Linked DNA regions of Homo sapiens: all the other regions are linked to region 1. The links come from fine-mapping of genetic effects on gene expression. A gene starts in region 1. Each other region holds a variant in brackets. All regions are shown on one strand. Distances are from middle to middle.

The links. PIP is the estimated chance that this variant, and not a neighbour inherited with it, causes the effect.
Region 2: its variant is the best candidate, but not a certain one, in a credible set for the expression of UBL3 in whole blood (TOPMed, PIP 0.64).
Region 3: its variant is the best candidate, but not a certain one, in a credible set for the expression of UBL3 in whole blood (INTERVAL, PIP 0.51).
Region 4: its variant is the best candidate, but not a certain one, in a credible set for the expression of UBL3 in blood mononuclear cells (TOPMed, PIP 0.72).

What each region holds. Positions count from the first base shown.
Region 1 is chr13:29,848,560-29,852,725 of GRCh38, forward strand. UBL3 (ubiquitin like 3) reads right to left here and starts at 2,058. Exons shown (of 5, transcript NM_007106.4): 1 at 953-2,058. The coding sequence starts at 979. RefSeq lists enhancers at 624-693, 1,164-1,233, 1,904-1,973 and silencers at 1,534-1,833, 2,104-2,213.
Region 2 is chr13:29,952,617-29,956,782 of GRCh38, forward strand. No RefSeq gene overlaps it. Among named protein-coding and RNA genes, the nearest start is that of LINC00544, 18 kb to the left of the region's middle. The variant C/A (reference allele first, on the strand shown) is at 2,245.
Region 3 is chr13:29,934,025-29,938,190 of GRCh38, forward strand. LINC00544 (long intergenic non-protein coding RNA 544) reads left to right here and starts at 2,507. Exons shown (of 5, transcript NR_033889.1): 1 at 2,507-2,677; 2 at 3,178-3,257; 3 at 3,882-3,985. RefSeq lists enhancers at 791-850, 1,571-1,690, 1,821-1,940. The variant C/T (reference allele first, on the strand shown) is at 2,063.
Region 4 is chr13:29,967,787-29,971,952 of GRCh38, forward strand. No RefSeq gene overlaps it. Among named protein-coding and RNA genes, the nearest start is that of LINC00544, 33 kb to the left of the region's middle. The variant A/G (reference allele first, on the strand shown) is at 1,993.

The DNA.
Region 1 (4,166 bases):
AAATGTTAACATATGTGAGCACAACTACGTTAACTTCAATTCTTTCATAAACAGGATTATTCCTCTTCCTGGTAATTAAATGCATTATGTTTGTCCTTAGGACTGCAAAATGTAACTTCACACTCACACAAGCCCAGCCCCAGCACTGTAAGGTTACACGGTTACTGTTAGTCAACCGACTCACAACCTTACCCTTTATAAACAAAACAAAGAAAGGCGTCAATAAACAACAGTACTTTTTGTTTCAAGTTCTCAACACTCAGTGATCGAGGCTCAATACTATGTTTCCTTAGCTTTATGTCTAATATGGAATCTACTATTAATAAATATCTGGCATTAAAAAGCCCTGGAATATTCATTGTAAGTACCAATACAGGGTCAGCCTACGTTTCTGAAAATCCCAAAATATCTTTATATTTCTGTTGCCATCCGTATTCAGACATTTCAAAAACCTCACAGCAAATTCTAACATACTTTTTCTTGAAGAGATGTGCATCCCTGTTCTTGAAAAATATCAAGTTCGTCCCTACTGCAATGACGATCTCGTCTGTGTCATAAAGCAAGATTCCCGTTTCCCTACCTATTCTCTCGTAGGGACACCCGTCCTCAGCTCTGCCCACTGTCCCTGACGTTTTCAGAAACGTTAAAATACTAGTGTTCGGAGGCTTCTAGCGAAGAGGGAGATGTTTTGTCCCCTCAAGCTACCATGATACATTTCCCTACTTCTCCACTATCTTCAATGCTTTAGAAAACACGACCAAATGAGAGAACCCATATTAAAAGCAGTACTTCCTAAAAGGGGGAAACCAGAAGCTCCAACTTCTCCAAATCGCTCAGCACAGTGGCTTTTCGACAGTCCCCAGCAAATCTTCGCCCCACGCCTGCCGTCTTTCCGATTAAATAAGATTGGAAACCACAATTAAATCAGTGTCATAACTTATCCGTCACTTACCATATCCGCCGGGACATTACTGGACATCTTGCCGTTTGATATACACCCAGATGTTTACGAAAAAAACAAACAAAGAAAAAAGAGCAGAAGTCTTCACGTTACAGAAATAAACCACGATTTTGACTGGTTCGTGATGTGCTTTCTCCCCCAAAAATAAAGTTATTTTGGAGCCAAAGTGCCGGTCAGGCCGAGGTTCTGGTTCGAAGAGGAACAATCCCCAGGAGCTGTGTGGCCGGAGCAGGAGGAAACTCCCGGGACAGCAGAGGCAGCCCCCGTCGTCGTCGTCGTCGTCAACAGCAGCAGCAGCCCCAGGACCGGCCGCGCCAGGTGGACCGAGCCGAGTGACACACGGACATGGAGAGGGGTGGGAGGGGGTTAAATGCGCCTTCCTCCTTTCCCAGCCCCGGCAATGATTCACACTTGCTCCCGAGTCAAGTCCTCATTAAGCAGGAGAAAAATGCCCCAGCGTGGATGTACACAGATAACTATGTAGCTACACATCGACGCGTGAGCCTTGAGTGGCGGCCGAGCGGTGGCCGGACGCTGGCCGCGGACCCTGCAGAGCCGCTGTCGGAGCGCCCGCGCGGACAGCGCGGGGAAACGGCTCAACTCGCGCCGCGGGGGCGAAGAGCCGGGCCGCGGAAACCCGCGCTCAAGGGCATTTAACTAGTTGGAAGCCAAAGCGAAAGACCGGAGCGGGGGACCGACAGCGCGGGGGTGCTCGGGGCCGGCCGGGACACTCCACAGCCCCTCTGGGCTCAGGCCGCGGGCGCCTCCGGACAGCAGCTGGGGTCGGGGCGCATCGTCTCCGGCTCCTCGCCACTCCTCTTCTGCCTCCGCCTTCCCCGCCGCCGCCTCCCCGGTCTCCGCCTTCCCTTCCCCTCCCCTCCCCGGCCTCGCGAGCTCCGGGCGACGCCGACTTCGGCTGGTCCCCGGAAGAGGCCGGGTCCTCCTTCTCCTCAGCCCGGGAATGGTTTCCTCTCAGAGCTTTGTTTCTCCTCCTCCTCCTTCACTTTTCAGTCCCACACGCCGCGGCCGCCTCCTGTCATCGCCTCTCAAACCAACATGGCGGCAGCGGCGGCGGCGGCGGCTGCCTGAGTGCGACTAAGGGAAACGGGGAGAGCACGGGCCCCCCCTCGCAGCAGCCGCCGCCCCCGTCCTCGTCCTCCCTCCGCGGACACCAAGTGCGTCACCACGGAGACCATTCCCTCGAGCATCACGGGAAGTGTAGTCTACGAGGGTGGGGGGGGGAGGGAGCCGCCGAACGCCTCCTCACCCAGCTCCGAAGCCACGCCCCCCATAGCAACAGTTGCGAGGAAAGGAAAGCTCCCTTTCCCTTGCTTTGGACAAGCTGCTGCCCAGGAGTTAAGTGATACCTGCTACCAGGAGTGCTGTGATCATGAGAATTGTTGGGAGAAAATAATTCTGCATAGAGAAATTCCCTTATGCACGATATGCACACAGAGCTAAAATATGCTGTACCTCCAAGCAGAATCATTCATTTTAATTACAGCACATTCTCCACATCCTGCAATCTCAATGCATTTTGTAGAGTGATTTCATCTAGGTCTCCTCAACATTACATTTTGAAGAACAAAAGCAATCATTGATTTCCAATAAGGTCACATAAGTTCAACAGGAACAAGGATCTCATTAAGCAGTGAGAATATTTGAACATGTGTTTCCTTGAAGACCCAGGGCAATAAAGCTACAATCTACTTAACTGAAATTACCAAAACTGTATTACATACAACAGTGTTATTATATCAAATCTGTATCAGGAAATAGCTACTACAAACTTCATGGGGATTCACCAGTTTACCCATCTGGACCCTAAATTCTATTCTATGTAACTCATAATGTAATTGAAAACCTATATGCCTTGCAGTGATTAGCAAATAGGAGAAAATAATGCCATTGTTGAGACACCATTCAGATGGACATTTGTGATTTCTGCATTTTGTTCCTAAATCTGAGGTCAACATCTGAATCCCTATTCATATCTCTTAGTCCTTTGACAGAGTACTTTAGAAAGGGCAGTCTCAATATGATGCCTATATATAAATGCCAATGAATTTAGAGTCTGAAAGCCACCTCTCCAACCTACAGCTGTGTGACCTCATCTGTAAAATGGTCTTGCCTACCTTCCGGGGTAAAGTAGGGGTAGTTATGAGGATGAGTTCATGCATGGGAAATAAATCACTTTGTAAATAATAATGCATCATTTGATATGAAATGTCACTACTCATTCTCTCATTCAGCAAACAAATGTGCCAGGCACTCTGCTAGGCACTAGGAGTTTAAAAATGAGTCACTGTAGCGAACAGCAGCATCATGTGGCAGAAATGCCAAGGTCTTGGGTTGGCAATGGGGGTTATTACATCCTTGTCTATAGGGCTGTTGAAAAGAGGCAGAATCCAGTCACTGTCCTCAGGGAGCTCATTGTCTAGAAGCCTACGTGATTCCCCACAGCAATCTCTCCAGTTGGGTTTCTCATCAGTTGGAAACCCACAGGACATTTAGAGTACCTGCCTCTTGAGTAGCCTGGGTGGAGAAATTCCAAACACTCCTAAGGGCCTATATCACCCTGAGGAAGATAGATCAAATTCTCCGAAAAACCAAAGGCCAGAAGAGAAGAGAGGCCCAAATCTCACTGTGATTAGGCTTCAGGACTTTGTCTAGATATTTCCAAGTCCATAGTTACGTGATTTTCCATGGCCTTTGTTACTTGGTTGCTCATTTGCAATGTTTAGCAACCACAGAGTCCCCCTACCCCTACACCAGCCCCCCAGGAAATAAGGGCAGGTGAAAATACTTCAATTGACCAATGAGCTCAGAAGGAATATTGGAGCACATTTTGAAAGCTCTAACTCACAGAGTTAGTCCCTCCACCATACCCTTGACTCCAACTTTTATCCAATGACCTCCCTGGCCATGGCACTGCCTGGCCATGGCACTGCCGGGCCTAAGTGCCACTGTAAGTAGAAAGGCAAGAGTTGCTGTTTGCTGCAGGTTACCACTGCCACCTTTACAAAAGGCAATGTCTTTCAAAAGTCGCTGTGTTTCCAATTACTCTTCTAAGAGGGGCTGAGACATTATTCTCAATAAAACTCATTATAACTCATCCCTAACATTGTTAAGGCATGAGGTAACATTATTGGACACAGTTGCAGATTTTTCCACTCTTTCTTTTCTCTTTGCTTCCCAGCTCAGG
Region 2 (4,166 bases), 100 kb after region 1:
TCAGTGGCAGTAGGTTAGAGTGATTGTAGTAGAAGCCACACGATCTTTAAAAATAATTGCTTTGACAATGATGGATATAGGAATGGACAACAAAATCTGCCCTCCTGTTACCTTCTTGCAAGTATTTGCTGGTTTAGATAACTTGCAAGTTATTTTCCCCAGGCCTGGTTGGTCTCAGCCAGGAAAAACCTACTCACAGCAATGGCTCTGGCCATACTGCTTAGAAATTGCTGGTGCCAAGGGATGTGATGATGGTCTATGTGCTTTTCTCAACATCGTTTTTTATGCCAACATATCAGAAAGATAATATTCTTGTCCTGGTGTGCTTAGAAAGTAACTCTAGCAACTAAACTATAATGATGAGTACAGTAAATGGGTCACCCCTTTCTTTAAAGAGAAAATTGCTCAAAGTTCTCTGGGAAGTATGGGGGTTTTCCATGACTAGAATGAATCCATGGTTTTCTTAAGAAAAAAATCTAAAGAAATACAACATAAAGCATGCAAGGAGTCTATGCATTTCATGGCAATCTTAGCTCGTTCTGGGAAACAACTGTTGTTAGTAAAGCCTCATACGATGCATTCATTCAGCCATTCAACAAATATTAATTAGGAATTGACTTCTTCCACAGTTTGTGCTTGGTACTAGGTAAAATTAAAAAAGAAGCAGAGCCTGTAATCCTAGCACTTTGGGAAGCTGAGGCCAGGGGATCACCTGAGATTAGGAGTTCGAGACTAGCCTAGCCAACAATGCAAAACTCCATCTCCACTAAAAAAAAAATACAAAAATTGACCAGGCATGGTGGCAGGTGCCTATAATCCCAGCTACTCAGGAGGCTGAGGCAGGAGAATCACTTGAACCCTTGATGGGGTGGTGGGGGAGAGGTTGCAGTGAGCTGAGATTGCACCACTTCACTCCAGGCTGGGCGAAAGAGCAGAACTCTGTCTCAAAAAAAAAAAAAAAAAAAAAAAGCAGAGATGTTGTCTCAACCCAAGCTGGGCTGCTGAAACTGAGGACCTTACATTCCAGTGGGCAGGCACCGGGTACAGAGGTAGAGCTTGGGTTCCAGTGACAAGCCAGAAACTAGCTTGGGATGACTCTGAAGAATACCCTTACGTCAATATAGCTGGTATTGTACCAACACATTTAGGTCCAGAAATTGATTGCGCAATGGCATAACGGGGGAGATCTGCTTTAATTGCCATCAGTTCTGTTTTCAAAATATCTGGACTTTTTCTTCGGCCAAAAGCTCATGTGATCCAACAGAGTAATGCAGTCGCTTTAAAAAGCGAATGTAATTGTAAGCTCCATTAAATAAAAATACCGTGTCCAGATAATAAGTAACAGTAACACTATATGCTGGTCAGATGATAATTGGAAAATAATGTTCGCTACAAGGCATTATAATTAAGATGTCTCATTTAGAAAGGCAGGGTGGAGGTGCTGAGGGCTTTAGAAACGGTTCCTGATCTAGGCTGGCCGGAGGCTCTGAGTGTGTTTAGCTTGGAAGAGAGAAAACAAGGAACTATCTTCCTGTCTTCAAATATTGGAGGAGGTGTTGTGAGGACGAAGGAATAAATCGGTTTTATTTTAGGACAAGACAGAAGAGGAGCAAAGAGTGAGTAAATGTCAAGGGAAAGACAGAGGAAGTAAATAAGGAAGGAAGTGGCAAGGAGGTTGATTTTGAGTTCAATAGACGAAAACAACTTGCTGAAAAAAGCTTTCTAACAAACTAAAGTGCTCAGAATTGGAAATGGCACTCTCCAACAATGGAGAGGTCACTGTCACTTCTCAGAATGTAAGCTACATGGTCATTTGTCAAGGACCTTGAGTTCCAGCATCAGGTAGAATGTTAGCTGTCTAAGTTCTCATTCATCTACAGGACACGGGGCTTCTGCGATGGGCCGGGCTTGTCCTGCGGAGACTGTCGCCAAGGCAGGAAGTGGAACACAAGTACGTGGGCTCCTTGAGCAAAGTGCTGTTAAACAGATGGGACACTCTAGATGCATTAGTTAAAGCCAAGCATGTTTCTAGACACTTCTAGAGAAGGAAACTTTCCCTAACGTCACAGCGGGGTCGGGGGTAAAATGGGCGGGTCTTCGTGAGAAGTGAGCTCCTTCTATGACAGGTATGAAAGAGAAAGCTCGCTGGTTCCAGGTGACAGCTCCCATCGAAAATTCCAGGAGCTGCTCTGGAGGAAATGGTGCTGAGATTTGCAAAGGGCAAAGAACAAATGATGCAAGAGA[C/A]GGAGGAAATATGGACTCGGCCCAAACACAGTCCCGTCAGGGGCCGTCTGTGGGAATGTGCCGCTGTTCTTGTGCTATTTCAGCGCAAAATATTTAGGAAATAGAGAGACACACAGAATGGCAATTCAAACTGATTCATCTACCTGATTTAAAAAAATAAAATATTGCTTCAGCTTAGTCCAAAATGTAACACATGGAGGTATAACCTTTTAGTTAAAAAATCATTCTTTTTCTTACCATACTGAGAGATCTTTGCCGGTAGAGAAAATGTCCTGTTTATTTTGGTATCCCTAGAGTTTAACATAGAGTCTACATATAGCAAAAGTTTCAATAAACATTTAGTATACCAAACAGAAATGTGATTTTTGGATGGCAGAGGGGTTGAGATATCTGGGCAAGAACAAAGTGTGATTTTCACTTTCTCTGGTCTTCTGTTGTCCCAGCAAAACCTCCCTCTGCTCCAAGGACAGCAGGATGCCCTGAGCTCTTGGTTGCAGCACAGCGTCCTCTAGCCCCCTCCATGGCACCCTCAGCTGACTTACTCACTCATGCATTCAGCAAATGTCCTTTGAGCCCCTACCATGTGCTAGGCTCCATGCCAGGGCTGGGTTATAGTGACAGAAAGACCAGTAGGATCCCTGCTTCCTGCAACTCTTCCTCTGAGTCTGCATTGGTGGGAGTGATGGCATTGGGAGTTGAGTACCTGGCATCAATTAAACAGAAAAAAAAAGTTTCTTTTAAAAATTTCCAATGGAGATGTGAAAGTATATATATATATTTTTTGAGACGGAGTTTCACTCTTGTTTCCCAGGCTGGAGTGCAGTGGTGTGATCTTGGCTCACTGTAACCTCTACCTCCTGGGTTCAAGTGATTCTCCTGCCTCAGCCTCCCAAGTCACTAGGATTACAGGTGCCCACCACTATGCCCGGCTAAGTTTTTTTATTTTTAGTAGAGATGGGGTTTCACCATGTTGGCCAGGCTGGTCTCGAACTCCTGACCTCAGGTTTTATCCACCCACCTCAGCCTCCCAAAGTGCTGGGATTACAGACATGAGCCACCTGGCCCGGCTGTGAAAATATTTTTTTAAAGAACTCTATTCGATAACCTCTGTGATTTGGTATTTATTTGATCCCAAAACATATCCAGATAACAAGTATAAACACAAACAAACAAACAAAAAACACTATGCCCAGAAATACTGATCAATCAGAAGAGGAGTTGATCCAAGCTTTAAGCACTTTTTTTATGTTAAAAAAGTCAGGTGCGGTGTCTCACGCCTGTAATCCTAGCACTTTGGGAGGCCGAGGTGGGTGGATCACCTGAGGTCAGGAGTTCAAGACCAGCCTGACCAACATGGTGAAATCCTGTCTCTCCTAAAAACACCAAAAATTAGCTGGGCATAGTGGTGTACACCTGTAATCCCAGCTACTCAGGAGGCTGAGACAGGAGAATCACTTGAACCCAGGAGGTGGATGTTGCAGTGAGCTGAGATTGTGCCATTGCACTCCAGCCTGGGCAACAGAGCAAAACTCCATCTCAAAAAAAAAAAAAAAAAAAAAAGTAAAATGAGTACAGTCAAACACCATTCACACTTGACTTGACCAAAGCCAGTATGATAAATATGAATTGTTCTCAGCTACCAAGCGTTGAGAGGATCACTCTCTACACCTGCTGCCTGCATGGCCATCAGTGCTTTCCAACAGGTTCACAAACAAGAGAGGTTTGAAAGCGTTGAAATTCTGCATGTAAATCGAGTCACCTTCTCACTAAAGGATTCATTTCAACTCATATCCTCAGACAAGAAAGGTAAAAAAGATGAATAGAGAAATGGAAAGGAAAGAGTTGAGAAGAAAGTGTGAAGAAGGGCAGACTCAGAGCTTGGAGGCCAATTAAAATAAGAAGAGGCTGAAGGAAAGGCAGGG
Region 3 (4,166 bases), 85 kb after region 1:
AGCTGCTGAGTGTAGGGCGTGGAGGTTGGCTTCGCCATGGGAGCAATGCAAGGTGCCAAGATGGACGTGGTATTGCCTTTTATACTCTAGTCTTGGAAGTCACACCCCATCATGTCCACCATAAGCTAGTGGTACAGGAATTTGCAAATATCTGCTTGGGTTTGAGGAGGGAGGACATAGACTGCGCCTCACTATGAAGTCATGTCAATCATCAGTTGTGGCACAGGGTATGTAGTGGGGTTTATATTGGGGTCTGGGGAATATAAAGCCTGTGTCCAGAACCAAAGCACTGTTCTACCCCTACACAGAACACTCTCTATCCAAAGACCCTTTGGTTAGCATTGCTTTTTGCCATTTCGGCCTTGCTAAGGCATGAGAAATGTTGCCACATCCGTTGCATCTGCTACAAAGGCATGCTAGTAATTATCAGTGATAACAGAATGAAAAGAATACAGTTGGTTTTGAGCTTCTAACATATGGTATTGTTGGCTCTTTCTGAGAAGAGAGATCCTGCTTGTGCCCAAGGAATCCCTGAGGATCCCTACGTAGGACCCACTCATCCCACTGCTTTGTCTCTCTACTACAGGGCAGTCTGTGTCCAGCCACTTCTGGGAAGTGGAGTATCTGATTGGTTACCCTGTGTCATAAAAGAGAGGGCATCTGAACTAATCTCTTTATGCAGAGTTTCACAGCACTTCCTCTGGGTCACACCCTCATAGCTCCATTCAGGCAAGGTATAGATTTGAGTAGAAATATCTGTCCTGAGCATCGAGGTACCGCGGTGATGCAAATGTAAGCCCCAGCACAGACAGCATGTCTGTGTTTCTAGTGAGCTGGCAGATGGCTTTTAAAGTCAAGTTACAAGTGTGTCCAGGCACAGGGACAGCTGTGTGAGCAAAGGAACACTTTTGTGCCAGGGAGGGAGAGAGGACCAGCTCTAGGGGGAACTATAGGCTCTGCAGGCTCAGAAAGAGGCAGGTGTGATGAAAACCTTCCAGGAGCACCTCATCACTCCGTTCAGGCCTCCTGACTCATTAGGAGATTCTGGTGACACCCCGCCTCCCTGGCTTCAATCTCTCTAGCTGTAAGCCTGGGGATTGGAAGACTTGGCACAGTCTTTCCTCCCCAAGGGTGCCGTGCTGATGATGTTTGCAGAGTGCATCACACTCCTCTGATAAAAGGTGTCTCCTGAGTACAAAGTATCATTGTCACTATATTCCACAATGTGGCTAAATATAGGTGTGCACCAATCTGCTGAAGAGCAGAGTGTCTCTTCAGCATTTGCCTGGGAGGAGCAAGTGGCCCAGTGGCTGCATAGGATGCAGCAGAAAAGAGCTGGCATGCAGCAGCAGTGTACCTGAGACCAGGGCATGGGGAGAGGGAAAGGCCCTGCATGCCCCCCTGGTGGGCAGCCCCAGCCCACTTGGTGACAGTGAGGCCTGAGTGCAGCAAGGCTGGAGTCATGCTGTGAAAGCCCACAGTAGCAGAGCCCCTGCCAGGAATATAGCAAGGAGATCACAGATCACAGAGTACATTGCACCTGCCCCATGCAGTGGCGGAGCAAGACGCTCAAGGGTCTGGAGTTAAGAGGGACCATTTGAGGTTAAGAGGGAAGGAGTCTCCCTTGTTTTGGTTTTTGTTTTTTGTTTTCCCACACAGTCCCAGAGGGTACTGTGGTGTTCTGACACACTCCCTGTGTCAGAGCTGTTTTTTCATTATGACCAAGACAGAGCAGGTGTGAGAGCTGAGCATCCTCCCCTTGCTGTGCTCCTCTGGTCTCCAAGGCACCCTCCCCATGCGCTGCTTCCTTCCACTTACCGCCCTCGCACGGCACCACATCCTGAGCTCTGCTTGTTCCCTCTTCAGACTGGCAGGTGGTTATAGAGGTGTTTGGGGTGTCAGCTCTGAAATGCTAAAAATAAAACCAGGCTTTCTATCCTGGGATGTCTCATTAGTTTGCTTACAAATGAGTCCCCCTGCAGTTTTTCAGCAATTGGCTAACAAGCTCTAATTTGAGCGTTTGGGCTGGACCTTGGCTCAGTGGGAGCAGACGCGGAGCAGA[C/T]GCCTTCTCGGAGCTGCCTGTTTGGGGAAGCTGGTCGTTTCCACTCTAGCTCAGCCTCCCAGAACAGGGAAGCTGCAGGAAAGTTGACAAAAGCACAGCAAAGCAGGGAGAGCCTCCTCGGTAGAGAGCAACGACCAGGTGGGTGTGGGTGTGGAGAGCAGTGGGGCCCACCTGGGCAGGTGCGGGGGGATGGGAGGAGGGGCTGAGAGTGCTCTCTAAGTTAAGGTCACGGTGTAGAGGAGAGGACTTGAAAACTTCCTGCAGCAGCTTCGTGGCCCGGTGAAATGTTCTCAGCAGCAAGCATGAAGCTCTGATTTGTAAAAAAATCAATACGGCTTGCATGCCAACTATGCCTTCTCCAATCCTGCATTTGTGATGTCAGAGGTTGTCATTCTGGGCTATGGAGCAAACCTTTCAGGGTTGACCCAGTCCTTCTAGGTCATGTGGAGTGGGCCAGCTTTAATGAACCTGTCTAAAAGGAAGGAAGAGAAAGAGCTCAGCTCCTTAGGGGAACAAGGTGGACCTTGGCAGCTGTCTCACTCCTCACCAGCTCTTCACCTCAGATCTTGTCCTGACTTCCTGGTCCACTAACGGCCTCCTGGATAGAAGAGTCAGGTAATGATCCCTGCCTTTCAATACTCATTGCTCAGTTTCAACAATCATCAACAATTTGCCAATCTCATTTCATCTCTCCTCTTATCTTTTTCCTTTTCTGGAGTATTCAGATCCTCTCACTTTCTGAGTGGAACTAAGAGTCTTCCTCACCTTCATCACCACTATTAGCTTATAAACCTCTTTTAAGGACAGGGATTCACCTCAGCTCAATTATGTTTTGTTACACACGTGGTACCCATCTTCTGTGTTGAGAGATGTTTGAATTATACAGTTTTTAGTGCATTAAGTGTTAGTGTTTGGGATCCAATTTGGCTCACTCTAGATGAGCTATAGAGTCTTCATTTTTTCTCCTCTCCCTTTTTCCTTCTTGAGTTAAAAATCACAGTTACCCAGCCTCCCCATACCTCCCCCCGCACCCTATATTACCACTTGTTTTTCTTTCTTTTTTCTAACCACACCCTGAGGCATTTCACCAGCAACTCTTTATTATCTAACCACAGTTCACCAGCCCAGGAGATGTTCTGAAAATTGACAATGATCATGATATACCCTGGATCCAGAATACTTCTCTATACAATGGGTGTGTATAAAGACAGACAGACCTGCCAGGCTCCATCAGGAAAGCTCTGTGTCTCCTTCACATGTGGAGGGACAGAATATTATCTGGAGATGGAGAATGCTTCTGAGAGCCTCTAGCACAGGGATCCCCAACCCCACAGCCTCGGGCAGGTCCCAGTCCCAGTCTGTGGCCTGTTAGGAACCGGGCCACACAACCGGGGGTGAGCGGTGGGCAAGTGAGCGTTACCACGTGAGCTCTGCCTCCTGTCGGATCAGCCGGTAGCATAAGAGTCTCATAGAAGCGTGAACTCTATTGTGAATTGCGCAAGTGAGGGCTCTAGGTTGGGTGCTTCTTATGAGAATCTAATGCCTGAGGATGAGGCAAAACAGTTTCATTCCAAAATCATCCCCCGGACCCCATCTGTGGAAAAATTGTCTTCCATGAAACCCGTCCCTAATGCCAAAAAATTTGGAGACCACTGCTCTAGTAGGCCTGCCTACTGGGCTTACTTTGTGTATATGAAATTGATAATTATTCCTCGTTTCAGAAATTTAAAATGTTACATTTATATTTCTTTCATATTTCCAACATTGTACCAAAGGTCAGTCCTAGAATGCTTTGTTTTAGCTGTTTTTCTTTCCTTAGGCAGAGAACAAAGATTGGTGGCTTCCTCCTGAGCACACTGGGATGTGGCATTACATCGGGGCTGCTGAGTGCCCTTACCTTCAGCTGCCCAGATGCAGAGGCAGGTGGGTGGGGCCAGGGAGTTTGATGCTTCACCTCCTTAAGTGAGAACTGCATCATGCAAACAGTCAGCTCTCAGCCAGATGGCACCACAAGGTTCTGTGAATTTCTCTCAGCACAACAAGCACATCTGCCAGTTGGGTTCCAATGCTGTTTTCTCTTTTCTTCTCGGCACTAGACACCAGG
Region 4 (4,166 bases), 120 kb after region 1:
AACAGAACAATTCAGCAGAAAACCAGCAAGATGTGTAAGAACTCAATGACATCATTGACCAACAGGTTGATGACATTTATAGAAGAGTCTACCTAATACCAGTAGAATACACATTTGTTGCAAGTGCTCATGAAACATATACCATGATAGACAACACCTAGGCCATGAGAGAAACCTTTAAGGAATTTGAAAGAATTGAAATCATGCAGAGTGAGTTCTCCAGCTATAATAGAATCAAACTAGACATAACCGTAAGATAACAGAAAAATCATTAAACATTCGGAAACTAAACAACACACTTCTAAATCTATGAATCAAAGAGGGAGTCTCAGGGGAACTTTAGAAATATATTGAATGAAAATGAAAATACAACGTATAAAAATTTGTGAAACACAACTAAAACAGTGTTGAGAGGAAAATTCATAGCACTGAATATATACATTAGGAAAGGAGAAAAAGTCTGAAATCAATAATCTAAGCTTCTGTCTCAAGAACCTAGAAAAAAGAAGAGCAAAACAAATTTAAAGCAAGCAGAAGGAAATAATAAAGACAAGAGCAAAAATCAATGAAATTAAAACTAGAAAAACAATTTTTAAAAATCAATGAAACAAACAGCTGTCTCTTCAAGAATATCAGTAAAATTGGCAAAAAAAATTCCCTTCTAGCAAAACTGACAGAGAGGAAAAGGGAAATACACAGGTTACTTGTATCAGGAATGAAACAAGACCCTGCAGATATCAAAAAGGTATTAATGGAATAATATAAGGGAATACTATAAACAACTGTAAACACACATAAATTTGACAGCTTACATGAAATGACCTAATACCTTGAAAAAACACATACTCCCACAAGTTAATATAAAATAGATAATTTAAATAGTCATATAACTATTAAGAAAATTGAATTCATAAGTCAAGTATTCCCAAAAAAGAAATTTACAGGACCAGATGGTTCCACTGGAGAATTTTACTAGACATTTAAAGATTTAGGACCAATTCTATACAGTAGATTTCTCCAGATTTTTCTACGTAGACAATTATGTCTTCTGCAAATAGAGACAGCTTTGCTTCTTTCTTCCTGATCTATATCTTTTATTTCCTTTTCTTGCCTTATTGCACTGACTAGAACTTCCAGCACTACATTGACACACATAGTCCCCAGGAGAACCAGAAAATGGGTCCTGAGGGAGCAAAGACAAGGCTCCAGTCACTGGGATACGTAGCAGGTTACTTGGTAAACATTTGCAGAATGAATGTCTAGTGTTCACGTCTTTCCTGGCACTCCTCAGTATGACCAATCCCATCACCAAAATAAATATCATTTGCATAGGTCTGGACTTGATGTGTGATGGGACCACAGCAAGGCCAGTTGTAGGGGAGGCCGAAAGTTTAATTCCCAAAAGGCAAAGATGTATTGATTTAGTTCAGGCAGGTATAGAGATCTGATCTTTCGGAAGCATTATGGCAGTGGACTTTCAAAAAACTCTTCTTGAAACCAGCAAAAGGGTAGACTCACTTTAGTGAGAAAACATCATACCGCCGCAGCACTCCATCAGCAGCTGTAGCAACCCTCAGAGGATACCTCAGAGTCACTAACGATCTTAAGGAAAATGCAGATTATAGAGTCCCGTTGAGTCAGAATCACTAGACCTCAGGTCCAGGATGCTACATTCTTAACAAGCTTTATCTCAACTACATTTGGAGAACTTCTGAGTCATAGAATTGAAGCATGACTCCCCTGCTTCAAGACAGGATTTTGGCATGAGCTAGATTGGACAACCAGGCCCCAGCCAAGAATATGGGATTTGAGGTGGTTTGCAGAGAGGATGAGTAAGAATTTGAAAGCAGGCATACTGTTGTTGTTGTTGAACGTACTTTGTAGTTGATTTTCTTGAATGTTTTTGTCTGTCCTTGACTTTTTTTATATTTTTAAAAATCAATAGATGTTATTTTTAGAATAATTTAAGATTTACAGGCCAATTGAGCAGAT[A/G]GTGCAGTGTTCCCTTATATCCTCTTCTCCTACACACAGTTTCCCCTATTATTAACATCTTGCCTTAGGGTGGTACAATAGTTACAATTAATAAACCAACATTGAGGCCAGGCACGGTGGCTCACACCTGTAATCCCAGAACTTTGGGAGGCCAAAGTGGGCGGAGATCAAGACCATCCTGGGCAACATGGTGAAACCCTATCTCTACTAAAAATACAAATATTAGCTGGGCATGGTGGCACACGCCTGTAGTCCCAGCTACTCAGGAGCATGAGGCAGGAGAATTGCTTGAACCCAGAAGGCATAGGTTGCAGCGAGCCGAGATCATGCCACTGTTCTTCAGCCTGGCAACAGAGTGAGACTTCGTCTCAAGAAACAAACAAACAAACAAAACACACACACACACACACAAAAAACAAATAAACCAACATTGATACATTATTATTAACAAGTTCATAGTTACATTAAGGTTCACTCTTTGTGTTCTACAGTTCCATAGATTTTCACAAATGCATGATGTCATGTATTCACCATTACGGTATCATACAGAAAAGTTTCACTGTTCTAAAAATTCCCTGTGCTTCACCTACTTATTCCTCTCCCTTTTCCCCCATATACCTAGCAACCACTGATCTTTTTATTGTCTCTATACTGTTGACTTTTCCAGAATGTCATATGGTTGGAATTATTTAGTATGCAACCTTTCAGACTGACTTCTTCCACTTAGCAGTATGCAGCTGACTTTCTTCCATGTCAGTTTTTGGCTTGATAGCTTATTTTTTTTATTACTGAATAATATTCCATTGTGTGAATGTACTAATTTCTTTATCCATCCACCTATTGAAGGTCATCTTGTTGGCTTTCAATTTTTGGTGATTATGAATAAAGCTGCTATAAACATTTATGCGTGTAGGTTTTCGTATGGACATGTTTTCAACTCAGTTGGATTACTGTTGAGGAAAGTGGTTCCTGGATTGTACAGTAAGACTATATTTAGATTTGTAAGAGCCTGACAAACTCTCCTCCATAATGGGTGTACAATTTTGCATTCCCACCAGCATTGGATGAGAGTTCTTGTTGCTACATATTCTCACCAACATTTGGTATTGTCAGTGTTTTTTAAAAAAATATTTCATTTTTATTGACAAATAATAATTGTATATATTTATAAGATTCGGTGTGATGGTTCAATACATGTATACATTGTGGAATAATCAAAGCAGGTTAATTGATACATCCATCACCTCACATAGTTACTTCTTCATGGTGAAAACATTTAAAATCCACTCTTTTAGCAATTTTGAAATATATAATACGTTATTGTTAACTATAGTCACCATGCTGTGCAAGAGATCAACAGAACATAGCCCTCCTGGCTAACTGAAAAGTGTTTTCAGTTTTAGTCATTCTAATGTGTGTAATGTATCTCATTGATTAATTTGCATTTCCCTAGTTGAGCATCTTTTTACGTGCTTACTTGCCATCTGTATAGCTTCTTTGGTGAGGTGTCTATTTAGATCTTTTGGTTATTTTAAAATTAGATTGCTTGTGTCTTATTATAAAGCTTAAAGAGTTAATTGTATATTCTGGATACAAGTCTTTTATCAGATATGTGTCTTGCAAATGTTTTCTCCAAATCTGTGGCTTGTCTTTTCATTCTCTTAACAGCATATTTTGTAGAGCAGAAGTGTTTAGTTTTAATAAAGTCCAACTTACAATCTTTTCTTTCATTGATTGTGCCTTTTGTGTTAATAAGAGCTAAAACTCAATAGGCTTATGTTTTTAATGCAGCCTTTTATATGATTCTGTTGTCTTTTCTATCTTAGAAAATCAATTATATGTCTTTTAATTTTTTTGTAAGTGGTTACCGTAGAGTTCACAATGTATGTTTACAATGAATCTAAGTTCACTTTCAAGTAATACTACATTGTTTCATGGACAGTTCAGTTACCTTAAAACAGACTATCCCAATTCCTCCTTCCCAACTCATAACATTTCTGTCATTCAGTTCACTTAATTATATGCTACAATCATCTGTGCCTTCATTTATTCCTTCTCTGACACTCTTCCTTTCTTTATGTAGATCTGAGTTTTTGGCCTGTATAATTTTCCTTCTCTCTGAAAAACTTTTAATATTTCCTGCAAGGTAGGTCTACTGGCAACAAATTCTCTCA